Homo sapiens: one gene and its partners. The protein of the gene in region 1 purifies or fractionates together with the protein of each later gene. This does not show direct contact. Each region holds a gene or a part of one and is shown in the gene's direction. Other genes may lie near its edges. The genes, in order: ZNF517, PPP2R5E, LRP1B, LRP2, FBLN1, NDUFAF7 and NUDT12.

Region 1 (3,500 bases):
GTTCCAGCTACTCGGGAGGCTGAGGTGGGAGGATTGCTTGAGCCCAGGAAGTTGAGGCTGCAGTGAGCTGAGATCACACCACTGCGCTCCAGCCTGGGTCACGCATTGAGACCCTGTCTCAAAAAAAGGAAAGAAAAATAGGAGAAAAAGAGGAACCACTCATAATTCTATGACGCAGAGAGAGCTAGAGTTTTATGCTACCAGCTTTATTTTTCTGCTTACAGTCTGCTTGTTTCATGTAGTAAAATGCAAGAATGTTTTCTGATGTTCCCACAACATGGTTTTATTGGTTGCAGAGTCACCCATTGTTCATTTCATAATGAGCAATGTTGCCCAGGCCGGAGTGCAATGGTGCAACCTTGGCCATCCTGGGAGGAAATCTTAAGCCCAGGAGGCAGAGGTTGCAGTGAACCAAGATCACACCACCAACTCCAGCCTGGGCGACAGAGCGAAACCCCGTCTCAAACAAAACAAAACAATAATTTTGCTCTAACCAGTCACGCTTTGTTCATTTCATAAATCCTTTCTGAGCACATGCTGTGTGCCAAGCCCTTCCTCAGGCCCTAGGGGTACAGACCAGAGGCCTTGTCTAATTGGGGAAGGCAGATAAGGAGCAAGGAAGTTAACTTGTCTTATGTCAGATGGCATAGTGCTATGGAGAAAAATAAAGCAAGGAGCGAGGATAAGGAATTCCCAGGCAGGAGGGGAGGTGGCAGTTTAAAAAATGGTGGTCACAGAAGGCCTCCCAGCAAGGTGAGAGCCAGAAAACATTGGAAGGAGTGGGTGTTCCCATGGAGAAGCTTGGATACACCTCCTTGGGACGTGAAGGAGGCGGCTGATGTGATTGCCCTAGCACTTTACCCTCTCCTGCTCCCTTCTGGATCTGGAGGGGCCTTCTGGGGGGCTGGAGGGCCTTAGGCCTGGGCTCTTTCCACTCATGGCTCTATGTTCCCTCAGAATTCACTGTCTGTAGCATCTGCTCCTCCACAGAGGGACCCTGGAATGGCGATGGCACTCCCGATGCCTGGACCTCAGGTGAGCACCCCCTGAGCCCGTCCATTGCCCCAGGAGACTGCTTCGCCCCTAGCCTCAGCTTTTCAGCCCTGAGAACCTTACAGCTTGCCTCACACCCACCCACATCACAGGATGGAGTCTGCAAGCCGAGGACAGCCTCCTCGCTCTATGGCCAGGCCTCACACATGGCTCTGCCAAATCCTTCCAGCCTTTGGGCAGAAGTGGGCTTCCTGCGGCCTCCTCTGGCCCCTGAGCTTCTATGGTCAGCCATTGAGGGCAGGGTCCCTGTCCTTCCCCAGTGCCTGCCTCCTTCCTGGTGTGAATGGTCAGCCCATCCTCCCTCTCCTGATGCTGACTCACTGCTGGTGTTAGAAATTGAGACCCAGAGGGTGGGGATGCTCCCCACAGTGCAGGTGCTCCTTCCCCAAATCCCTGATAGCCTGTGGAGAGGGCGAGGCCAAGGTTGGGACCCCCTTCCTGGTAAATCTCTCTCCCTCCCCCAAGTTCAGTTTTTCCCTCTTCCTCTCTGGGGCTTCTGCTGAGAATGAGGCCGCTCACTCGGGGGGTGTTGGGCTGCCCTTTCTCTGCTGGGCCCTGTGGATGCAGCAGTGGGCAGCAAGGAGAGAGGCCTCTAGCAGATCATGCAAATGTTTCTCATCTGCTGGGTTCTCACCGAGCCCTTGACTGCCTGGATAGCAGAGTATGTGGTTGCAGGAGGCGGTTGTGTTCGAGGATGTGGCTGTGTACTTCACAAGGATAGAGTGGAGTTGCCTGGCCCCCGACCAGCAGGCACTCTACAGGGACGTGATGCTGGAGAACTATGGGAACCTGGCCTCACTAGGTGAGGGCTTCTGCCTTTGGTCCTGGGGCCGGGAGGTGCGTCTGTGTTAGCTTCAAAGGAAGTTGGTTCCATTGCAGATTCAAGGTCTGACACATTTTTGAGGGGAAGCTGGAGGCTCCCCAAGGAGCCCCTCTCTGCTTCCTGTTGGGCACCCACTGCCAGCGTCAGCCTGCCTGAGGCTTCTCTCCTGGGGCAGGCCCCCCATCTCCCCCTGGCCACCTAGCTGCCCCCTTCTGGGATAGTGAATGTTCCTGACCCACTCCAAGCACTCTGTGCCCTGATGGCCTCCAGCCAGGCACCTGGGCGTCCCTTCTCCCTCCTGTACTGATACGTGCTGCTTTCCTTCTCTGAGCTTAGGCTTTCTTGTTGCCAAACCAGCACTGATCTCCCTATTGGAGCAAGGAGAGGAGCCGGGGGCCTTGATTCTGCAGGTGGCTGAACAGAGCGTGGCCAAAGCCAGCCTGTGCACAGGTGAGTACAAAGCACCCACAGGGCGTGTCCTGTGCTGCCAATGTGGCCTGGCCTCCGGGCAGCTCTGCAGGTCCCTTCTTCTACAGTGGGAGGTGTGTATGTTTAGCTCCTCACAGCAGGGCCAGATTTCCTACTAACTGCCTTGCTTGTAGGTCTAAGGTCAAAACTAACTTATGCAGGAAGACCCAAGTGCGAGAGTTTTCCATTTTGGTGTCCCCAAGGTGTCAGGGGCCGGGTCTGTGCTCACAGTGCCATTACCCTTGGGTTGTGTAGGGACCAGCCCTACAGGGTCTGTGGGTTTTTCTCCTCATGTGCAGAGACGAGAGATCATAGAAATAAAGACACAAGACAAAGAGATAGAAGAAAAGACAGCTGGGCCTGGGGGACCACTGCCACCAAGACATGGAGACTGGTAGTGGTCCTGAATGCCTGGCTGCGCTGTTATTTATTGGATACAAGGCGAAAGGGGCAGGGTAAAGAGTGTGAGTCATTTCCAATGATTGATAAGGTCATGTGAGTCACATGTTCACCGGACAGGGGGTCCTTCCCTGTTTGACAGCCGAGGCGGAGAGAGAGACAGGACAGCTTACGCCATTATTTCTTCTATGCATTTTAATGACTTTTAGTACTTTCACTAATTCTGTTACTGCTGTCTAGAAGGCAGAGCCAGGTGTACAGGGTGGAACATGAAAGTGAAACAGGAGCATGACCACTGAAACACAGCATCACAGGGAGACGGTCAGGCCTCAGCATGGCTGTGGGCGAGTTTGACTGATGTCAGGCCTTCCACAAGAGGTGGTGGAGCAGAGTCTTCTCTAACTACCCTGGGGAAAGGAAGACTCCCTTTCCAGGTCTGCTATGTAACTAGTGCCTTCCCAGGCACTGGGGTTACTGCTAGACCAAGGTCAACTAAGTAACGGGCGTCTTCCCAGGCACTGGCGTTACCGCTAGACCAAGGAGCCCTCTAGTGGCCCTGTCCGGGCGTGACAGAGGCTCACACTCTTGTCTTCTGGTCACTTCTCACTGTGTCCCTTCAGCTCCTATCTCTGTATGGCCTGGTTTTTCCTAGGTTATAATTGTAGAACAGAGATTATTATTATTATTATTTTTGAGATGGAGTCTCGCTCTGTCGCCCAGGCTGGAGAGCAGTGGCGCGATCTCAGCTCACTGCAAG
Region 2 (3,500 bases), on another chromosome or scaffold:
AGTCTCAGATTCTTCATCCACAAAATAGAAAAGTAATGGTACCAACTCTGTTGGTTGTGAGGAAATGAGATATTATATATGTGGGACACTTAGCACAGTGCCTGGCATATAGTGAACATGCAGTAATGATTGTTTTCTTTGTACTCTCAGGGTCTGGTGCCTAATGAGTCTCAGGGTTTTGTTTTGTTTTTTGAACCAAGCTGAATAATGTAAATGGAAAAATTCTGTTTTCTCAGTGTCTTTCGGTAGATACATCTTATACCATTTTGTTCTCTTCTAAAACAGGGCTTCTTAATCTGTATAAATGAAGGAAGCCACCCCTTTTTCCCTTTTCCCCTGTAACTACCCTTTTTAGAGATTTTAGGTTTTGTTTTTGAGATGTTCTTTTGAATTCATGAAATCCAAGATGAGCCAATCAGGCCCAGCAGACCAAATTAGAGCCAGTTGATAGCATGGTGGGCAGAGAAAAGGGATCTAAGAGAGCAGAGAGGGTAGGTGCAGCCAGTGTCCCTGAGACCAGAAACTGAGCAGACATCTCCTGGCTTGCACAGGAAGGGACCAGAAACAAACTCTGGAAGAAGCCCTAGAAATGAGGCCCCAGTCTTTACCATATTGTCAGTGTAACCTTGCCTACATTACTCAGTCTCCCTGAGTCTCTGTGTCCTCACCTGTAAAATGAGCACAATGGTATCTCCTTCTGGGATGGTGGTAAGGATGATACATTCTACTTGCTGTGTAGGCACAGTGCCTGCCCATAGGAGGTACTTAGTAAATATTGGCCGCTCTACAGGGATGAGCAACTGTGGGTGTTCCTCAGTAGCTGTGACTGAATGCTAACCATATGCTGGGCCCTGGGTTCGATCTAAGTGTGTGTGATGAAAAACATAAGAAAGGGGACCAGTGAGATGTGCTAAAGTGATGTCAGGAAAGTGTGGAATCAGATGACATGGGCAGAATTAGAGAAGAATATAAATTAACAGGAAAACTTCTTTTCCTTCCCTGAGTCGATGAACCACTTGAACCACTCTGGACTTTTTTTTTGGTGGGAGGAGAAGACACGGTCTTGCTCTGTCACCCAAGCTGGAGTTCAGTGGCATGATCTCCACTCACTGCAACCTCCGCCTCCCAGGCTCAAGCAGTCCTCCCACCTCAGCCTCCCAAGTAGGTGGGACTATAGGCACATGCCACCAATCCCGGCTAATTTTTGTGTTTTTGTAGAGGCGAGGTCTCCCCATGTTGCCCAGGCTGGTCTCAGACTCTTGGGCTCAAGTGATCTGCCTGCCTTGGCCTCCCAAAGTGCTGGGATTACAGGTGTGAGCCACCGTGCCTGGCCCACTTTGGAATTTTCCAAGAGATTAAAAATCCACAAACATTTAAAATGTGGGCCAGGCACGGTGGTTCACGCCTGTAATCCCAACACTTTTGGGAGGCTGAGGTGGGCGGATCACGAGGTCAGGAGATCGAGACCATCCTGGCCAATGTGGTGAAACCCCGCCTCTACTAAAAATACAAACATTAGCTAGGCATAGTGGCATGTGCCTGTAATCCCAGTTACTCGGGAGGCTGAGGCAGGAGAATCGCTTGAACCCGAGAGGCGGAGGTTGCAGAGAGCCGAGATCGCGCCACTAGCGAGACTCCCATCTCAAAAAATATATATATATTAAAATGTGATTAATATTTAATTTTACCTCTAATTGAATGATTTACAAATAGCCTTTTGAAATACTTTTGTTTGGAAAGATTTATAATTTTGTTTTATCTTTGTCTTTTTCTCTCTCTTAACATTTTATTTTTCTTTTCCCAAAGGTGGCAGAAAGAGCACTCTATTATTGGAATAATGAATACATCATGAGTTTGATAGAAGAAAACTCTAACGTCATCCTTCCCATCATGTTTTCCAGCCTTTATAGGATTTCAAAAGAACATTGGAATCCGTAGGTTTTCAGTTTCTTTCCTCCGTTCTCTTCCTCCCTTCCTCTCTTTCTTTCCCTTCAGCCTTATTATGTGCCAGATGCTGTCCTTGTTGCTGAAGACGTATGTGAAAAGATAAAATCCTTACCTTCTGGGGATTCACTGACTGGAGAAAATAAACAGATACTTTAACAAAATACCGGTTAAAGTATCTGTTTACTAGACAGGCTTCTTGATCTGTCTATGAAGGTAGCAGATCTTTTGGGGAGGCACTGCAGCTGAGAGGAGAGGTGTGTAGATACTGACAGCATGGCCATGCTTAGACTGAATCTGAAAGGAATTTGGCAGGTGGATGGCATGGGGAGAGCCCTTTCAGACAGTGGGTCCATCCATCATGTTAAAAGGCACAAAGATGTAAAAAGCAGCTGTCAGTTTCTGAGACCTGTGAGTTTGGGAGGGCTGAGGCACAAGGTCTTTTGGGGAGGGTGCTAGAGGATGTGGCTAGAAAAGACTGTGGGACTCGTGTGAGCCTTCACCAAGTAGATGATGAGGAAGTACTGAAGGGTTGTTAAGTGGGGAAGTGGTCTGACTAGGTTTTCATTTTAGTGTGATCTATTTAACAGCCAACTCAGTCGCTATATGTATCTCTTGGAAAGGAAGGAGTTTAAAATCATCAAGGGAAGTTTAACATCCAGCCCTATGAAAGTTAAAGCATTCTGAATTTGAATGCCTTTACATTTTTCTCTGTGGAATAGAAGGAAAATTTAATGTGGTATTTAAAAATTGGGAGATACAATTCAGTATATTCATAATATGTTTATCTTTAAAAATTTTGCATGTAATTATAAAATATCACATTTCTAATTTTTCAAATTTGCCTAATTATATTAATAGAACTTGTAAAAATAAGGAGCTGATAAACAGTTAAGTCCCTTTATACAGATAGTCTCTTGAGGACCTAGAGAACGGTTCTAGCAAGTGTCTGTAACTACTCAGTATACTACATTTGGTGCTTTCCCATCACTGCCCTTGGGAGGAAGGTCATTCTGGAACCTTAACAGAAAAGAACTTAAATTTTCCTTTTAATGGCACAAGGCAGAAGCTACACAGCAAGTGTACTTTCTTGTAAATGTTTTGGAAACATCAGACTCATGGTTTATTTAATATATGGCTAATTTTTACCAATGCATTTTTCAGTGGTATTAGGAGCATGTTTGTTGCAAAACGGAAGCAACGGATATTTTTGCAAAAGGAAAAGCTATTTAGACTCTAGTCTGAAGCTATCAAGCCCATCATAACCTTGTCCTCACATTGCCCAAGAGCTAATTCTTGTTAAGTATGGGCTACCATTTTGGCTGTTTAGCTGTATAGTGTCCCATAGCTAATAGCAACCATCCCAGCTTGCCAGTTATCAGCATATATTTTGGGTCAGCAGGACTGGTGCAGATCAGAGCTAGACAGATAATTCATATTGAACCACCCAACCTACATGAGGGCTTGATTTCATTTCTTTGGATAAGAATAATTTATATATATACACATATATATATAACATTTGTTTCTAGGGAAGTAGCTTCTGATTTTGATGA
Region 3 (3,500 bases), on another chromosome or scaffold:
AGGTAGGTCATCAGAAACAGCTTAAAAGAAAACCTCAAGACAGGTCTATTTGCGTGAATGGAAATCTATACAACAAACCCCCATGGCACAAGTTTATCTAGGTAGCAAACCTGCACTTGTATCCATGAACTTAAAAGGTAAAAAAATAAATAAGTAAAAATTTTAAGAAAGAAAAAAGAAAGCCCCAGGGAAGTTTGAAATTGAAGCTTTAATATTTTAAGTGGATTAATAAAAGCAATGACAATTGATAAATCTTCTACTACAAATATTGTGAAAAATGATTATACCTTCAAAAATATGACACAGCAGGTCACAGATTAAAGATGTGAAAGGACAATAAAGCTAGTAATAAGTTAAAAATAATTTTGGCTTTTTTGAAACGTGGTAAGAATAGGAGTCTGAATTGAGGGTATGATGATGCTATTTTGAGCTCTTCTTTTCTAGACCTTAATGAATGTTTGGTGTTTGGCACATGTTCCCATCAATGTATAAATGTGGAAGGATCATATAAATGTGTGTGTGACCAGAATTTTCAAGAAAGAAATAACACCTGCATAGCAGAAGGTAAGATTATAACCACTATTGCAAATCCTATTACAATTTTGTTGTAAACATTTTATGGAGAAAAATGTTTTATATTTCATTCCAGCAACAGCTTCATTTCTGATAAAATACTTTTAATGATGATTAATTTGGCCAGTTGGTTAGTTAATATTAATGAATTTAATCTTAGATGGTTTATGGAAATGACTATGAAATATATGGTTACTGTTAAAATCACATTGTGTCATTGTGTTCAAAACAATTTTTCAAAAGGGGTAAAATTTTAAAAGCCAGTGTGATAGAATGTGAAGTATCTCTCTTGATGGTCTGCTCTAAGGGAATATGAGAAAAATTATACCCCAGGGATAAAAATAAACATTAGCATTATAAGGAGAAAGGAATTTTGAGTAAGGATTTTAAAGGTTTTAAAACAAGATCTTGCTTTCAAATTTAGAAGTCCTCCACTTACCAATATTATTTTTTAAAAAGATTAAATGATAGGCCTGGTGCAGTGGCTCATGCCTGTAATCCCAGCACCTTGGGAGGCCAAGGCGAGTGGATCACGAGATCAGGAGTTCAAGAACAACCTGACCAACATGGTGAAACCCCGTCTCTACTAAAACTACAAAAATTAGCCAGGCGTGGTGGTACACACCTGTAGTCCCAGCTACTTGGGAGGCTGATGCAGGAGAATCGCTTCAACCCAGGAGGCAGAGGTTGCAGTGAGCCAGGATTGCGCCACTGAACTCCAGCCTGGGTGACAGAGCAAGACTCCATCTCAAAAAAAGAAAAACAAACAAACAAAAAAAGATTAAATGATAAACTAGGGTTCTGGGCAATTGTAGGTATAGATTTTAATATTCATGTGTTTATGCTAAATAATACTGTAACTTCAATATTGTTGGCTACAAAGTATGATTGGACATTATTAAGATTGTTATTACAAGAAGAAAACAGGATGATGTAATGGATCAACTGTGGGCTATAGCATTTGATATGCTTGGATTTGAATCCCAGCACAGCACCTTTTAGACTGTGTGGCCTCAAGGAATTCACTAAAGTGTCAGAGCCTCAGTTCAGTTTCCATAGTTATAAGAAGTGGAGATAAACTGTGAAAGGCTTAACATAGCGTCTGACACATAATAAGCATTTGCTAAGTGACAGCTATTAACATTACAGAGCTGAAAGGCACCTCATGAGGTATTATTATTATTATTTATTTGCAGAAACTATGTATGCAATCGAACATCTCTTTAGGGCTTCGTTAATATTTTAATTGATAATTTTGGCATTTGCTTTAGGGTTTTACTTGTTAGTATGAAAATGACATTAGTACTCTATTGTAGGTGTCAAAACTTTAGAATAGAATGTTACACTTAGCAGGATTCTAGATAATTTAGAGATTATAGAACTTTAATGGAATAAATACTGATATCTTTTTATGTTAAAAGTTAGTAAGCATTTAAGATGTATAAATACAGTAAGAGGAAGATTCTTCATATTTTAATTTTTATTTCTTAGCCTAAAGTAATGATCACTCAGGTGCATAAATTAAGTAATCAGAAACTTTTGAAGCTTAATGAGTATACAACATAGTACTTGGATATTGACAATTGATGCATTATAACCTAGTGTATTGTGACTTATCAAATAATAATCTCTCTTCATAAAAGGACATTTATATGTACATAATTTCTAGCCATAAGGAAAGATTGGCAGTAGAAAAACCTCTATCAATAATTATTGTAAATGTTTAGATAAGTGAGTATCAGAAATAATAAGCCATAAAGACTAAAAGACAATATAAAACTGGTTGATTTTTGAGGAAAAACTGTATTAAGAATAATAATTCAAGATAATTTAAAAGTACAATTATTGCTTTTAACATTAGTTGAAATTTACTTTATTTTTGTATTTTATTATAATAATCTCCAGGCTCTGAAGATCAAGTTCTCTACATTGCTAATGACACTGATATCCTGGGTTTTATATATCCATTCAACTACAGTGGCGATCATCAACAAATTTCTCATATTGAACATAATTCAAGAATAACAGGGATGGATGTATATTATCAAAGAGATATGATTATTTGGAGTACTCAGTTTAATCCAGGCGGAATTTTCTACAAAAGGATCCATGGCAGAGAAAAAAGGCAAGCAAACAGTGGCTTGATTGTAAGTAAATACCATTGTATATTTGAAAGTCCATACCTTTTCCCCACCTGCTTTTTAAACAAAATTTATCTAATATAATATCTAATTATACTAAGTAATATATTCAATTATTCTCCCAATATTCTCCTTAAATAGAAATAATGCATTTCTCTACTCATTCTCATAGCTGTACATGATTTATTTTAGTTGCATGCTTTTATGTTTTTGCTTTAATGTATTTGACTATTATATAAGAATGCTAATGAATGACATATAACATCTCCAGAACATCTATTTCATAGTGCTTTACAATTATTATGAACATAAGCTTTTTTATCATGAGATGAGATTGGGAAACATCACTTTATTTTTACATTAGAAAGTAGCGTAATGCAGGGATAACTATTTCTCTTCTTACATTATCATAAATATACTTCTACTGTAGGGCAGGACATCAACTCAATAGTGTAACCATTTCTTCTGACTCCTGATAACTATATTTCAGGAAATATCCAAAACAGAAATATTGTGCACTTGTGTATGCTGGACATGTTGATTATCATGGTTATTGTTTTTGAGAAAAAATAAACTGGAACATGTTTCAATTTATGGTTGTAGATTAGATTATCCCTTTTTGTTTTAGGGCATGTCAAGTTATTGTGTGTTTTATATTTTTAAGTAACCTGGAAGGAAAATGACAGATAAATATGTGTTTTTATAGGGCCTGGCCCATTCCTGTACAACCAAAAAGTCAAGTGGTGTCCCAGCAGGATGTAATTGAAGCTTTGTGTTTAACAAAAA
Region 4 (3,500 bases), on another chromosome or scaffold:
TACCCATGTTTCTTTTCAGAGCATTTATTTTTTACTGACTGGAGACTGGGTGCCATTATTCGAGTCAGGAAAGCAGATGGTGGAGAAATGACAGTTATCCGAAGTGGCATTGCTTACATACTGCATTTGAAATCGTATGATGTCAACATCCAGACTGGTGAGTGAGATTGCCCAGTTTTTTTTATTTTTTTGTATGGGTTTATTTATTTGTTACAGTGGCTCCTGTTCTCTTTAAGTACTTATTACTTAAAGGTCTAGCTCCTGGTAGTTTTATATTCTTGTCGTTCACATAATCTAAGAGTGTAAGACTTGAAATCTCTGTTCAATGCTGCTAGCCTTAAACATGTTGTCAGGAAAAACACATTTTGGGACTTTTCCATACCTAAATGGAATGTTGTATTTGGCGGGTTGATTTCCAAGAGGAAGCTACTTTTTAGTATTGGGTCTGAAAAATGTTTTGTCCTGTTTGTTTTCCTTCACAAATCAAACCCGTGACCTACCTAGTGAAAATGTACATGACTGACTCCCTCGGGGCTTTGCTTTTGCAGGTTCTAACGCCTGTAATCAACCCACGCATCCTAACGGTGACTGCAGCCACTTCTGCTTCCCGGTGCCAAATTTCCAGCGAGTGTGTGGGTGCCCTTATGGAATGAGGCTGGCTTCCAATCACTTGACATGCGAGGGGGACCCAACCAATGAACCACCCACAGAGCAGTGTGGCTTATTTTCCTTCCCCTGTAAAAATGGCAGATGTGTGCCCAATTACTATCTCTGTGATGGAGTCGATGATTGTCATGATAACAGTGATGAGCAACTATGTGGCACACTTAGTAAGTAGCTATGCACTGGCGATATTTCCTGGGATGAATAGAGTAGAGGTGGGCTTTAAAGAAAATAAATAAAAGCTTGGGCTATTTATATGGGAAAAATATCTTTTAGAATTTCAGATTCTTAACATGCACTTTGAAGGCTTTTAGGAAGCTAAGCAAGAAATTTCATTCATAATGTTATGGATGGTTTCTGGCCTTGATTTAGACTATCTTCAACAATTTTTTTCCTTGACATTGGCTGTTTGGACCAATGCAGTCATTATGTCTTGGCAAACTCCTCAAAAAGTCAAATCGAAATAAACTAGATCTGACCAGGCAAGGTGGCTCATGCCTGTAATCGGAGGCCGAGACAGGAGGATTGCTTAAGTCCAGAAGTTTGAGACCAGCCTGGGAAACATGACGAAATCCGGTCTCTACAAAAAATATAAAATGGCACATGTATACATATGTAACTAACCTGCACATTGTGCACATGTACCCTAAAACTTAAAGTATAATAATAATAAATAAATAAAAAAGAAATAGATGAGCTCAGAAAAAAATATGTATATAAAATTACAAATAGCTGGGACTATTACAAAATACAAAATTACAAAATACAAAAAAAACAAAATTACAAGTAGCTAGGACTACAGGCACATGCCACCACACCCAGCTAATTTGTATTTTGTATTTTCACAAAATTTGTAAAATACAAAAATTTGTACTTGGGAGGCTGAGGTGGGAGAGTTGTTTGAGCTGGGGAGGTTGAGGCTGCAGTTAGCCAAGACTGTGCCGTGTACTTCAGCCTGTGCAACAGAGTGAAGCCCTGCCTCAAAAAAATAAGCAAACAAACAACAACAACAACAAAAACCAAAAATAAAGTAGACCTAACATTTAGCAACCGAGAGAATAGTATCACAGAATAACTACTTGCAATCATAGCCTTTGGAAAATCTCATGTGTTATATTCCTTTTCTCCCATGTTAGAGTAAAATAAATTAACAATGAAATGGTGGTCTTAACCTTTATATTCTTCTTTTGACGGTAATCTAGTCTATATAGTTTGGGGCCTAATAAACACTATTGCAGAAGGCAAAAGTATTACATTCAAATTAAAAAAAAGATAGAGGACAGTTGAAATCTCAGAAATCTCTATCAAGGTGAAGTTAATACTAATAATAACCTTTCTTTTGGAGAGAAAGAGGAGTGACAGATTTGCAAGAGTAAAGTGCTCACTTGTACATTTTTCTGAAATTTTTTAAATTTTCATCTTTTTGTGTATTATCTTCTTGTTTCTAAGAGCACAGCATTTTACCTTAATATTTTATCTATTTGCACTTTTCATATGACATATTTTCAAGCTTTCTATAGTCTGAATTTGAAATTGTGGTTGGAGGAAGTAACAGCTTGAAAGTTAAGGATGAGCTTTAGAGTGAATCCAACCAGAGCGTGAATCATAGGCAGGTTCCTAAATCTCTCAAAGACTCAATTTCCTTATCTGTAAAATGCAGACAATTATATGTACTTTATAGTATTCTTGTGAGGATTTAAAGAGAACTTATATGATGTGTGTGGGTGCATAACTTAGAAAAATGCCTTTTCTATGATAAATACCAAATAAATGCCAGCCAATAATGATGTTAGTGATGATGACATCACTTGATGAACATTTCTCCTTATTATATACAATGCCTCCATTAAAAAAGGTGAACTGAGCCTTTATAAGGCAAGAACTCATTTAAAAGGCTGTAAAAACAAATGTCTTCATGACCAGTTTGTTACTATTGTAGATAATACCTGTTCATCTTCGGCGTTCACCTGTGGCCATGGGGAGTGCATTCCTGCACACTGGCGCTGTGACAAACGCAACGACTGTGTGGATGGCAGTGATGAGCACAACTGCCCCACCCACGCACCTGCTTCCTGCCTTGACACCCAATACACCTGTGATAATCACCAGTGTATCTCAAAGAACTGGGTCTGTGACACAGACAATGATTGTGGGGATGGATCTGATGAAAAGAACTGCAGTAAGTTTTGAGCTGGTTTCCCTTGGTTGGTCAGCCTCGTAAATAGACTTCAACAACCAAATGGCCTTGCATTCTTTCCTCTAAGGCTCATGCAATTTTCATTGTCTCTTTAGTACTTCTATTCCACTTGTCAATCTCTGTGTCAATAGGTTACAAGAACAAAGGCACGTGCCTGCACATGGGATTCTTAGAGTCCACCTACAAATATTGAGTTCTATGGAAGCAAAGCAAGGACTGCCTCTGATGCCAAACATTTCAATTCAGATAGGAATTGAAAAAGTGAAAATCCCTCAGCTATCTATTTATATATTTAAAACAATACTAAAAGTCATATAGATATATCCAGACCTTTGGCTATTGATGTTTCTTTTTCATTTGGTACAAGCAAAAAGACATCAAAATAAAGAGGCACAGAAAATTTAAATTTCCTTTGATCTTATCCACCTGTTTTCCATCTTGCCAGTTCTGCTTTCCTTTAGCTTGTTGTTTTATTTCATGTCTTCAATAATAGTTTAAGATGGAGCAAAGTTCCCTGGGCTAAGTTCTAGTCCTGGTTGCCTGACTAGGCAAGTCACTATCATTTGGAATAGATGAGCTTTAAGATCCCTTCTAGCTTTCATACCCTATAAGTGTGTATTTAATATAATTTCATGTTGTG
Region 5 (3,500 bases), on another chromosome or scaffold:
TGCTTCAGCCTCCCCAGCAGCTGGGATTGCAGGCGCCCATCACGCCCAGCTAATTTTTGTACTTTTAGTAGAGATGGGGTTTCACCATCTTGGCCAGGCTAGTCTCGAACTCCTGACCTCAGGTGATCCACCTACCTCGGCCTCCCAAAGTGCTGGAATTACAGGTGTGAGCCACCGTGCCGGCTGGCAGCCCTGTTATTAATGTTAGCTATTATTCCTGTTGTCCCCTTCTCTAGGAAGTGTTGGCACCAGGAGCCTTCGCAGCCCTTGGGGGCTCCCTGGCGGCTCCTTGGAGGAGATGAGGCTTGATGTGAGGGGAGCGCGGGAAGAGCGCAATTCTGCCAATACCCCAGAATTGTTTTCCCCAAGATGCCTCTGCACATTCTACTACTACTGAATTTCCCAGCCAGGCGCTGAGCAGAAGGCCCCATGGGGCTATAGGACTGGTAGTCGTCAGTGCCAAACCCGTGTCAGGAAAGGTGGTGTTCTTAGCCATTCAGTCATTCATTCACTAAGGGACAGCTCAGTGCCAGACACTGCTCTATAACTTGTGGATGTGGCAGGAAAGGAGAGAGACCCAGTTTTTCCCCCTCATGCAACTAGGAGATCCAGAAAAATGAACTGAGCCCTACTGGCAGAGTCAGGGAAGACTTCCCGGAGGAAGCGGCATGCAAACTGGGAACCTAAGGAGGAAAAGGCAGTGGCTAAGTCTGTGGGTAGGGCTGGGAGGATGGGGGAAAGGGTGTTCCTGGCAGGGGAAATGGCAGGGCCAAATACCTGGAAGGAAGAGAAAACACGAGACTTCCAGGGAAACCCCCTCCTTCTACCCACTTCCAGTTCCTTCCAGTTCCACCCCCTCCTCACCACTGGGGGAGACTGTGCTGTCTAGAGACTTCTCCAGCAGCTTCCCTGACCTGGTGAGACTTTAAGCCCGGGCTCTGAGCACTGGGCACCTGGTCAGGGCCGCCTTCCAGGTGAAGTTTATTAGAACAGTTCTAAGAGGGCATGTAGTTATTTTGCCAGCATATTTTATACAACAAGATTTTCCTTTTGCAGAATAGCAAATCATAACAATTTGATGAATGAATCCTTTCGTAGGCCCCATATGGTTCCAGTTTCCTTGTGATGATCTCACATGTGGCCCTATAAGTAAACAGGGTGGGAGGGGGGAACCACTGTGTCAACTTCCCTGGGATAGGAGACCCCCTCAGGCTGGAGGGGAGCTCAGGACTGGCTAAGTCATCTGCCACAAGTCACCCAGCGAGGAGCGGGGCTGGGGCTGGGCCTAGAGCTGGGCTGGGCCCCACCTCCTTTAACCCCACAGTGGTCCTAACTAGAGGCTGGGGTGGGAGGGAGCGAGGCACCAGTCGCCATAGCTTCCTACAGGTTATTTGCGGGTTACTACACTGTGCGGAGCCAACATGAGAAGGGGGTTAGGAAGCTGTGTGTTGGTCCCAATTCTGAAAGTGTCTGGAGAGATCTTGATGACACCCACAAACTCTCTGCCTCTGTTTCCTTCACTATAAGATGTGAGTGTCCTCTGGGTAATTATTATAGGTGAAATGCTTTACATTTAGTAACCAATGTCGTCATCTCAGCAGCCCTACGAAATAGGTGATCCAGTGTTGTTTTGAACCTATTTTTATTTTTTATTATTATTTTTGAGACGGGGTCTCACTCTGCCGGCCAGGCTGGAGGGCAGTAGTGTGATCTCGGCTCACTGTAACCTCCACCTCCTGTATTCAAACCATTCTCCTGCCTCAGTCTCCTGAGTAGCTGCGACTACAGGCATGCGCCACCACACCTGGCTAATTTTTGTATTTTTAGTAGAGATGTAGTTTCACCATGTTGGCCAGACTGGTCTTGAACTCCTGACCTCAAGTGATCCACCTGTCTCGGCCTCCCAAAGTGTTGGGATTACAGGCGTGAGCCACTGCGCCTGGCCCTGTTTTTCATTTTGGATCCTGTTACCCACTGGAGTGAAAAGGTCCTGTGAGTTTTGCTACCTAGGTATGAAGCCCGGCTTCTTGTTTTGGCCTAGAACTCCTCTATGGACCTGCACAGTGCCATTTCTGAGAGTCACTGATGCGTGTGATAGGTTGAGGATGGAAATCCAACACCTGTGCACCCAGCATGGTCTCCCCACAGCACGGGGACTCGAGCACCTTCCTGCCCCACCCCTGCCCCAGTTCACCTGTGTTACCTAGCTATACCCTCACCCTAGCCCTGCAAAGGAGGTGCTGTCATTGTCCCCCTCATCAATGAGGGGACATGGAGGCCCAGAGAGTCCAGGTAGCAAGACTGTGGGTGCATAGCTGCTAAGTGACAGCAGCAGGACTTGAGCTTGGGCAGCTTGGCCCTGACGTCATACCCCTCACCAGCACACTGGACAGCCTCGCGTATCTTTTTTTTTGAGACGGAGTCTTGCACTGTCTGGGGTGTGATCTTGGCTCACTGCAACCTCTGCCTCCCAGGTTCAAGCAATCCTCCTGCCTCAGCCTCCCAAGTAGCTGGGATTACAGGTGCCCGCCACCACGCCTGGCTAATTTTTTGTATTCTTAGTAGAGACGGGGTTTCACTATGTTGGCCAGAGTGGTCTCTAACTCCTGACCTCGTGATCTGCTCACCTTGGCCTCCCAAAGTGCTGGAATTACAGGCGTGAGCCACCGCGCCCAGCCAGCCTCACGCACCTTTAGAAGACTTGAATCTTTAAGTCTAGTTCAGGGGGGGATGCCTGTTTCCTTTGGAGTGTGATGGTGGGGTGTGTATGAGCTTTACAGTCAGAGCTGGATCTGAAGCCTGCCTCTGCAGAGGCTGCATGGCCTCGGGCAACTTGGTGATTCTCTCTTTGCCCCCACTTTATAGAATACCTAGGATCATGTGAGATCATTTGTGCGTTCATTCATTCACGGACATTTATTGAATGACTGCTTAGGGCAGGCATGGGGGCAGGAGGCAGAATGAGACAGTGTCTGGCTCAGACTCATGGCACTAAGTACAGAGTTAATTATTTGTGCTAAGTGCTGGGAAGCTCAGAGTACAAAGAGACCATGCAAGAAAGAAAACATATTTGTCCCATGTGCATGCGTGTATATGTGCATATGTGTGTGCATTGGCGGTAGTTAGGGAGGACTTCCTGGAGGAAGGGACCTTTGAGCTGGTGTGGCATGAACAAGCTGGCCTGAGGAGAGCAAGCGTCCTGGGACCCTCCAGCCTTTGAAGCTCCAGGTTCCAAATGCCAGGTGCAGAGGATGCATGACAGGTGGCCAGAGGGGTGAGAGGAACACCAGGGGAGATGCGTCCTGGAAGCCCAGGAGGCCCTTGGAGCAGGGTGGGATGTTGCAGAAGGATGAGGATGCCCCTCTGTGCACTGGGCTGATGTAGGAAGTTGCTGCCGGGGCCAGAGCTGCCTGGAGGGAACTGTGGGGAGAATGCTTCTCGCCTTCCCAGAGAGGTACCTTCTGCTCCTTCTCTCTTGCTGCCTCCTCCCGGCTGGTTCA
Region 6 (3,500 bases), on another chromosome or scaffold:
CTTGATTTATTTTGAATGCTGAAGGGGGAAAGTTGAAGCTGGAAGAGAGAAGGGGACAGCTAAAAGGACTCAGGGGAGTTGTATGAGGAATGGTCCAGAGCACAGGCGGAGGGATTAGGTTTGGATGAGAGGAGAAGGGGAAGGCATTTCATTCTTGGAGTCCCCAGATTAGGTTAGAGGCCAGGTGGGGATGGGAAGCTGAGGAATTCGTATTTTATAACATTCTTTAATTCTGGAGTGAGACTGGGGCCCATGTCACCTGTAGTAAGGTGGTAGAATAGGAGCTTGAGAAGCATAAGAAATATTTAACTCAATTCTTGAGTGTTTCTTGAAGGTTAGGCATCGTGCTAAAACTTGGGATATGAAGATAAATAAGGCATGATCTTCTGCAAACAACTATACTTTGTGGTGAAGAACAGAGACAAATTAGCTCAGAAAAGGTGGCACTGGATTTGGCCTTAGGTTGGAGGGCTGGAGGAGGTCAGCTAGGTGGCATTTGAGCAGATTCGGAGGTTGAGTATAAGACTGCCAGGGAAAGTTGAAAAGGGAGAAGGGTGAGGATTTGCAGTGGCATGGATGTCTGGACAAGCAAGGCTAATAAGAAAAAAAAAAACAACCCTTTTTCTGGAGATATAATATTCATATAGAAAAGTTCATAAACCACAAGTTTACAGCTCAATGAATTTTCACAAAGCAAATGCTCCCATGTAACCAGCACCCAAATCAAGAAACAGAACATCACCAGCAGGCAGGGCCCATATGTGAGGCAGAAAGTGTTAGAATTTGGAGAGGAGGCTGGAGGAGTAGGCAGGGTCTTGCTGTGTTGGGTGTGGGAGCTGGGAGGGGAGGAAGGGTCTGGCGTGCAGAGATGGACGTTACATGACTTCTGCCTTTACGGTCAAGGTGTAATTGTTTTTCTACCGGTTTTGTAAAATGACTGTTACTTTGTAAAATTTGGGTAAAGACACCATATTTCCCTTGCTTATTTATTTATTTATTTATTTATTTATTTTTTGAGATGGAGTCTCACTTTGTCACCTAGGCTGGAGTGCAGTGGCGCGATCTCGGCTTACTGCAAGCTCTGCCTCCGAGGTTCACGCCATTTTCCTGCCTCAGCCTCCCAAATAGCTGGGACTACGGGCACCCTCCACCATGCCCGGCTAATTTTTTTGTATTGTTTTTAGTAGAGATGGGGTTTCACCATGTTAGGCAGGATGGTCTCAATCTCCTGACTTCGTGATCCACCCGTCTCGGCCTCCCAAAGTGCTGGGATTACAGGCATGAGCCACCACACCTGGCTCCCCTTGCTTATTTAGAGGAGAGAACTTTCTTACTAAATAATTATTTCACTTTTACATTATTTAAGATTTTGGAGGGGTATTTTTAAAAGGCTTATTTGAAAATTAATTTTGTTTCTCTATTTTCTCTTTTTACTCAGGGTTATTATGTGTACCGTGACATGCTAGGCGAAAAAGGAGATTTCATTACTTCACCTGAAATAAGTCAAATCTTTGGGGAGGTAATATACTATGTAAAGTATGAATGAAGCTAATATAAACATTTGAGAGCAGATCAAATTGTATTATTCTGTAGTAGTGTTCTACAGCTTTTTTTGTGATTCATCAAAAGTTTTAACTTTATAGTAGTTTATGTACTGAGGGAATAGAGAGGCAGTAGAGGGGAGTAAAATGGTAGAGAGAATATTTGAAAAGTTTATACTCCACTGTAGGAAGGGAAATGGAGAGATAAGAGGGACAAAGAGAAAGAGAAGGAAAGGAGGGGGTCATAAAGAGGACAGAAAAAGGAGAATCAGATGAAGGAAGAGAATGGAAGAAGGGGCCAGGCGTAGTGGCTCACACCTGTAATCCCAGCACTTTGGGAGGCCGAGGCAGGCGGATCACAAGGTCAGGAGATCAAGACCGTCCTGGCTAACACGGTGAAACGCAGTCTCTACTAAAAAAAAAATACAAAAAATTAGCCGAGCGTGGTGGCGGTCGCCTGTAGTCCCAGCTACTTGGGAGGCTGAGGCAGGAGAATGGCGTGAACCCGGGAGGCGGAGCTTGCAGTGAGCCAAGATGGCGCCACTGCACTCCAGCCTCGGCGACTGAGCAAAACTCCGTCTCAAAAAAAAAAAAAGAGAATGGAAGAAGGAAGAGAGACAAAAGGAAAGGCGAGGAAAGAGGTAGAGTGCCCAGGAGAGTGCCCGGGAAGGAAGAGAGAAAAGATAAAGAGCATTGAAGAATTAGTGGAATTAAGAGAAGCTCTAAAGCTCCCAGTCATGATTTTAGCCGTACTTACAGTAAAAGTCTTCTTTTATTTATCTATTTTTTGAGCCAGGGTTTTGCTCTTATTGCCCAGGCTGGAGTGTAGTGGCGCAATCTCGGCTCACTGTAACCTCTGCTTCCCGGGTTCAAGCGATTCTCCTGCCTCAGCCTCCCGAGTAGCTGGGATTACAGGCATGTGCCACCACTCCTGGCTAATTTTGTATTTTTAGTAGAGACAGAGTTTCTCCATGTTGGTCAGGCTGGTCTTGAACTCCCGACCTCAGGTGGTCCACCCGCCTCAGCCTCCCAAAGTGCTGGGATTATAGGCGTGAGCCACCACGCCCAGCCAAGTCTTCCTTTAATAAACAGAATTCTAATTCATTTCCACTAAGTACCTTCTATGAATTTAGAAATAGGAAATAGTGTATACGAGGAAGTAGAATGTGCGTATCGAAAAACATTAGTTATTATAAGAATCATGTAATTGTTTAAATCATATGAATATGAAGAAATGGCATAATCACATTTCATATGTTTATTTGCTTTCAAATACTAATACCTTTCTGCTAGTGATATCCTCTTATCTATGTCATGGGACCTTTTATAGCAGAGGCTGCCTTATTTTTTCCTATTAATCTTCCTAAATGGTGTATGTTATGATGTAGTCCCAGGAAGTTCCTATGTGAACATGTACGTATGTATTGAACAACATACATATGGCTGTACACATTTTGCTTTTTGGCATATAGTGCATATTTATGTGAAATTTTATATTGTGGTATACTTTTATACTTTATAATACTTTAATATGTGTTTTTTTTTTCCCTTTTCACAGCTACTAGGTATATGGTTCATTAGTGAATGGATGGCCACTGGAAAAAGCACAGCTTTCCAGCTGGTGGAACTGGGCCCAGGTAGGGGAACCCTCGTGGGAGATATTTTGAGGGTAGGTAATAAAAGAATGTCTTCTAGTCTCATATAAGTGAATTTTAGTACTTCTGAGTGTGCAAACCATGTTGATTTCATTGGTTTTCAGTTCCTTAATTTCATATTTCTCAGCTAAAATATAATGTCAGAATAATGTAATCAGTCATTACTTACTGTTGTCTGTAAACTTAAAAATTGGAGGGGAGGGGGAGAATATGAAAGCTAAAAATAGGAAACATTTAGAAGACATTATGGGAGAGTGTATTTGTTTCCTCAGGAAGGAAAGTTGTTAATTATATTAAAAGTTTA
Region 7 (2,218 bases), on another chromosome or scaffold:
TAAGAGACATCATGTTGGAAAGATGTTCTAGAAATGTGCATAAATTTCAGTGCCTCTTGTAAGCATTAAACTGATGATGAAGAAAGTTCCTGATTTGAGAAATGAATCAAAGTAATTTTAATGAATTTTTAGCTTGTATTAGCTTGAGTTAGCTGGCATTGATTTTTTAGTCCTTTTGTTACCTTTAAGTTGTCAATATATGGTTTTTGTTCATCTCCCCATTGTAGTCCCACTTGCTCTTTCCTGGGGGTTCCATTGTTCTAGCAGTGGAGGTGTTATAGTGTCGCCACTCGTCTAATTTGACCAGTGTTAAGAATTTTCTAATTTAATAATTTAATAGTGATCTCAATACCACACCCTCATGGAAGGAGAAAAGCATACTATTATATCTGGGACCTCTCTTTTAGACCTAAAATTAATTAACATATCTACTTATATGTTACTTATACCTAAAGCTGTTATTAAGACAAACCAAGATTCTCTGCTTTTGCACTGAAATTAAACTTGAAAGGAATTCTCCTCAAAGGTCGGATATTAAATAAGTCCCAGGCAGATTTACATATTTAATTTAAAACATTGGCTTTATTTCATTTTGTGATGAGTGATGTATCTGTGTTAACAAAAAATTGTATAATCATTACCAATACTATTTATTATGCTCAAATATATCTTGGCTTTGACCTTATTTCAACACATTCTAAGAAGCCTTGACAAAGTAAGTATATTTTAGAGCTGAATCAGTAAGATTCTAGAGAAAGCAAAACATAGTAGTTCACAATTTTGCAACATAGAAAGTCACATTTTGAAAGGCTATTTTGAAATTGATTTAATAGCTATTATAGTTTATGAATATCAAAATTTGTATAATTTGCATCTTTACTAATGTATGCTAGAGCTACAAGAGACCTTAAGGATAATATATGAAATTAGCTTTCCTTATTTTATAGATAAGGAAAAAGAAATTGTGAAAGGTGAATTTACCTAATTAGTGAAAGTTACATAACTAATTACAACAGTCTGTACTATATAATGCAGAGGACGATTCTCCCTGTAAAAGGAACTAGAAGCTATTACTAAAAATATATATAGACAAAATTAAAAGAAGGAATGATAAGAATAAATTTAATTTACCAAATATTGTTAATTAAAATTTTAGATACTTAACATTTATTTAACTTAAATAAAAGATAACTGTCAGATAAAACTTTATTTTACTAATGAGCAGTGATTTTCTTAGGAATTGATGAAGGCTTATTGGTATCAAGAATTTAAACCAAATTAAAACTGACAGAGGACATTTAGATACATAATAAAATTCGAGCTACATAAGTATATGGAAAATAATGTACCTTGATTATTATGAAATAGAGCATCTTGAAATTCAGTTTTACTCTAAATGTACTTTTAATACTTGCAGATTCTAAGATTACATTGTAAAATTCCAGGTTTTCATAATGTTAAAATAGGAAAGTAGAATATAAAGTATCAACAAGTGTAGTTATACATTTTGTTTTGGATATTTAATCCTTACTTGGGAAAAAATCAGCATCTAGGTAAATTATTATTTTAATAACAACTCTTAAATTGCCAACCTCTGAGAGGTGAAAAGCTATGTAAATAGAAGGAATGGCCAGTTCAAAAGAATAGTAGATGTGATAGTGCCGTGAATGTATTCTACTGGAAATGAATGTAATAATACATTAAATTTTTAAAATCTATTTTGTTTTGTGTGTGTGTTTAACATGTTTTGACAAGTGTCCTGAAAAATGAGAAAAGCTGGATTTCAGTCGTTAACCTGTTTCGAATTGATAATGTACAAGAAATGCAAAAGCCTTTTTAAAAGTGTCTGTGTTTGGGAGACTTAAAACTTTGATTTGAATCTTAAAGTATAGTTTGGGGTCAAATACAAACAGACTTACATATATACATACATATATAAAGTCAATAATTTTTGTTCTTCAGGTTTAAAGCGATATATCTAATTTTTATTACTTGTCTAATACTGCTAATTGTTGGATTTTGATATTTTCACATGTTGATGGAACATGAAGAGTTAGAAGCCCACATATTTTATTTAGTTGGAAAAATGAGAAATTCTTTTAAAGACCCAGTTAGGGATTTGGCTGAAGACAGAAAATAATAGGATAACAAAGGGAGAGACCAAGATGGAAGGAGGAAGAATAAGTTTGTTAATAAGCCAAATTAATCCCACATAACA

Evidence for each region.
Region 2: the proteins of ZNF517 (region 1) and PPP2R5E purify together in Homo sapiens (affinity purification with mass spectrometry; 2 studies listed by BioGRID and IntAct, with this or other methods). This does not show direct contact.
Region 3: the proteins of ZNF517 (region 1) and LRP1B purify together in Homo sapiens (affinity purification with mass spectrometry; 2 studies listed by BioGRID and IntAct, with this or other methods). This does not show direct contact.
Region 4: the proteins of ZNF517 (region 1) and LRP2 purify together in Homo sapiens (affinity purification with mass spectrometry; one large-scale study listed by BioGRID and IntAct). This does not show direct contact.
Region 5: the proteins of ZNF517 (region 1) and FBLN1 purify together in Homo sapiens (affinity purification with mass spectrometry; 2 studies listed by BioGRID and IntAct, with this or other methods). This does not show direct contact.
Region 6: the proteins of ZNF517 (region 1) and NDUFAF7 purify together in Homo sapiens (affinity purification with mass spectrometry; 2 studies listed by BioGRID and IntAct, with this or other methods). This does not show direct contact.
Region 7: the proteins of ZNF517 (region 1) and NUDT12 purify together in Homo sapiens (affinity purification with mass spectrometry; 2 studies listed by BioGRID and IntAct, with this or other methods). This does not show direct contact.

Annotation. Positions count from the first base shown.
Region 1 is NC_000008.11:144,801,913-144,805,412, forward strand, and holds part of ZNF517 (zinc finger protein 517), read left to right. Parts: intron 1-957; coding exon of another isoform or gene 958-1,002; coding exon 1,003-1,035; intron 1,036-1,728; coding exon 1,729-1,855; intron 1,856-2,212; coding exon 2,213-2,326; intron 2,327-3,500. UniProt on the Homo sapiens protein: May be involved in transcriptional regulation.
Region 2 is NC_000014.9:63,382,878-63,386,377, reverse strand, and holds part of PPP2R5E (serine/threonine-protein phosphatase 2A 56 kDa regulatory subunit epsilon isoform), read left to right. Parts: intron 1-1,806; coding exon 1,807-1,934; intron 1,935-3,500. UniProt on the Homo sapiens protein: The B regulatory subunit might modulate substrate selectivity and catalytic activity, and might also direct the localization of the catalytic enzyme to a particular subcellular compartment.
Region 3 is NC_000002.12:140,350,017-140,353,516, reverse strand, and holds part of LRP1B (low-density lipoprotein receptor-related protein 1B precursor), read left to right. Parts: intron 1-444; coding exon 445-564; intron 565-2,478; coding exon 2,479-2,720; intron 2,721-3,500. UniProt on the Homo sapiens protein: Potential cell surface proteins that bind and internalize ligands in the process of receptor-mediated endocytosis.
Region 4 is NC_000002.12:169,244,035-169,247,534, reverse strand, and holds part of LRP2 (low-density lipoprotein receptor-related protein 2 precursor), read left to right. Parts: intron 1-19; coding exon 20-157; intron 158-548; coding exon 549-830; intron 831-2,602; coding exon 2,603-2,842; intron 2,843-3,500. UniProt on the Homo sapiens protein: Multiligand endocytic receptor. Acts together with CUBN to mediate endocytosis of high-density lipoproteins. Mediates receptor-mediated uptake of polybasic drugs such as aprotinin, aminoglycosides and polymyxin B.
Region 5 is NC_000022.11:45,505,883-45,509,382, forward strand, and holds part of FBLN1 (fibulin-1 isoform D precursor), read left to right. Parts: intron 1-3,500. UniProt on the Homo sapiens protein: Incorporated into fibronectin-containing matrix fibers. May play a role in cell adhesion and migration along protein fibers within the extracellular matrix (ECM).
Region 6 is NC_000002.12:37,234,658-37,238,157, forward strand, and holds part of NDUFAF7 (protein arginine methyltransferase NDUFAF7, mitochondrial), read left to right. Parts: intron 1-1,438; coding exon 1,439-1,519; intron 1,520-3,099; coding exon 3,100-3,210; intron 3,211-3,500. UniProt on the Homo sapiens protein: Arginine methyltransferase involved in the assembly or stability of mitochondrial NADH:ubiquinone oxidoreductase complex (complex I).
Region 7 is NC_000005.10:103,548,355-103,550,572, reverse strand, and holds the end of NUDT12 (NAD-capped RNA hydrolase NUDT12), read left to right. Parts: 3' UTR 1-1,718; downstream 1,719-2,218. UniProt on the Homo sapiens protein: mRNA decapping enzyme that specifically removes the nicotinamide adenine dinucleotide (NAD) cap from a subset of mRNAs by hydrolyzing the diphosphate linkage to produce nicotinamide mononucleotide (NMN) and 5' monophosphate mRNA.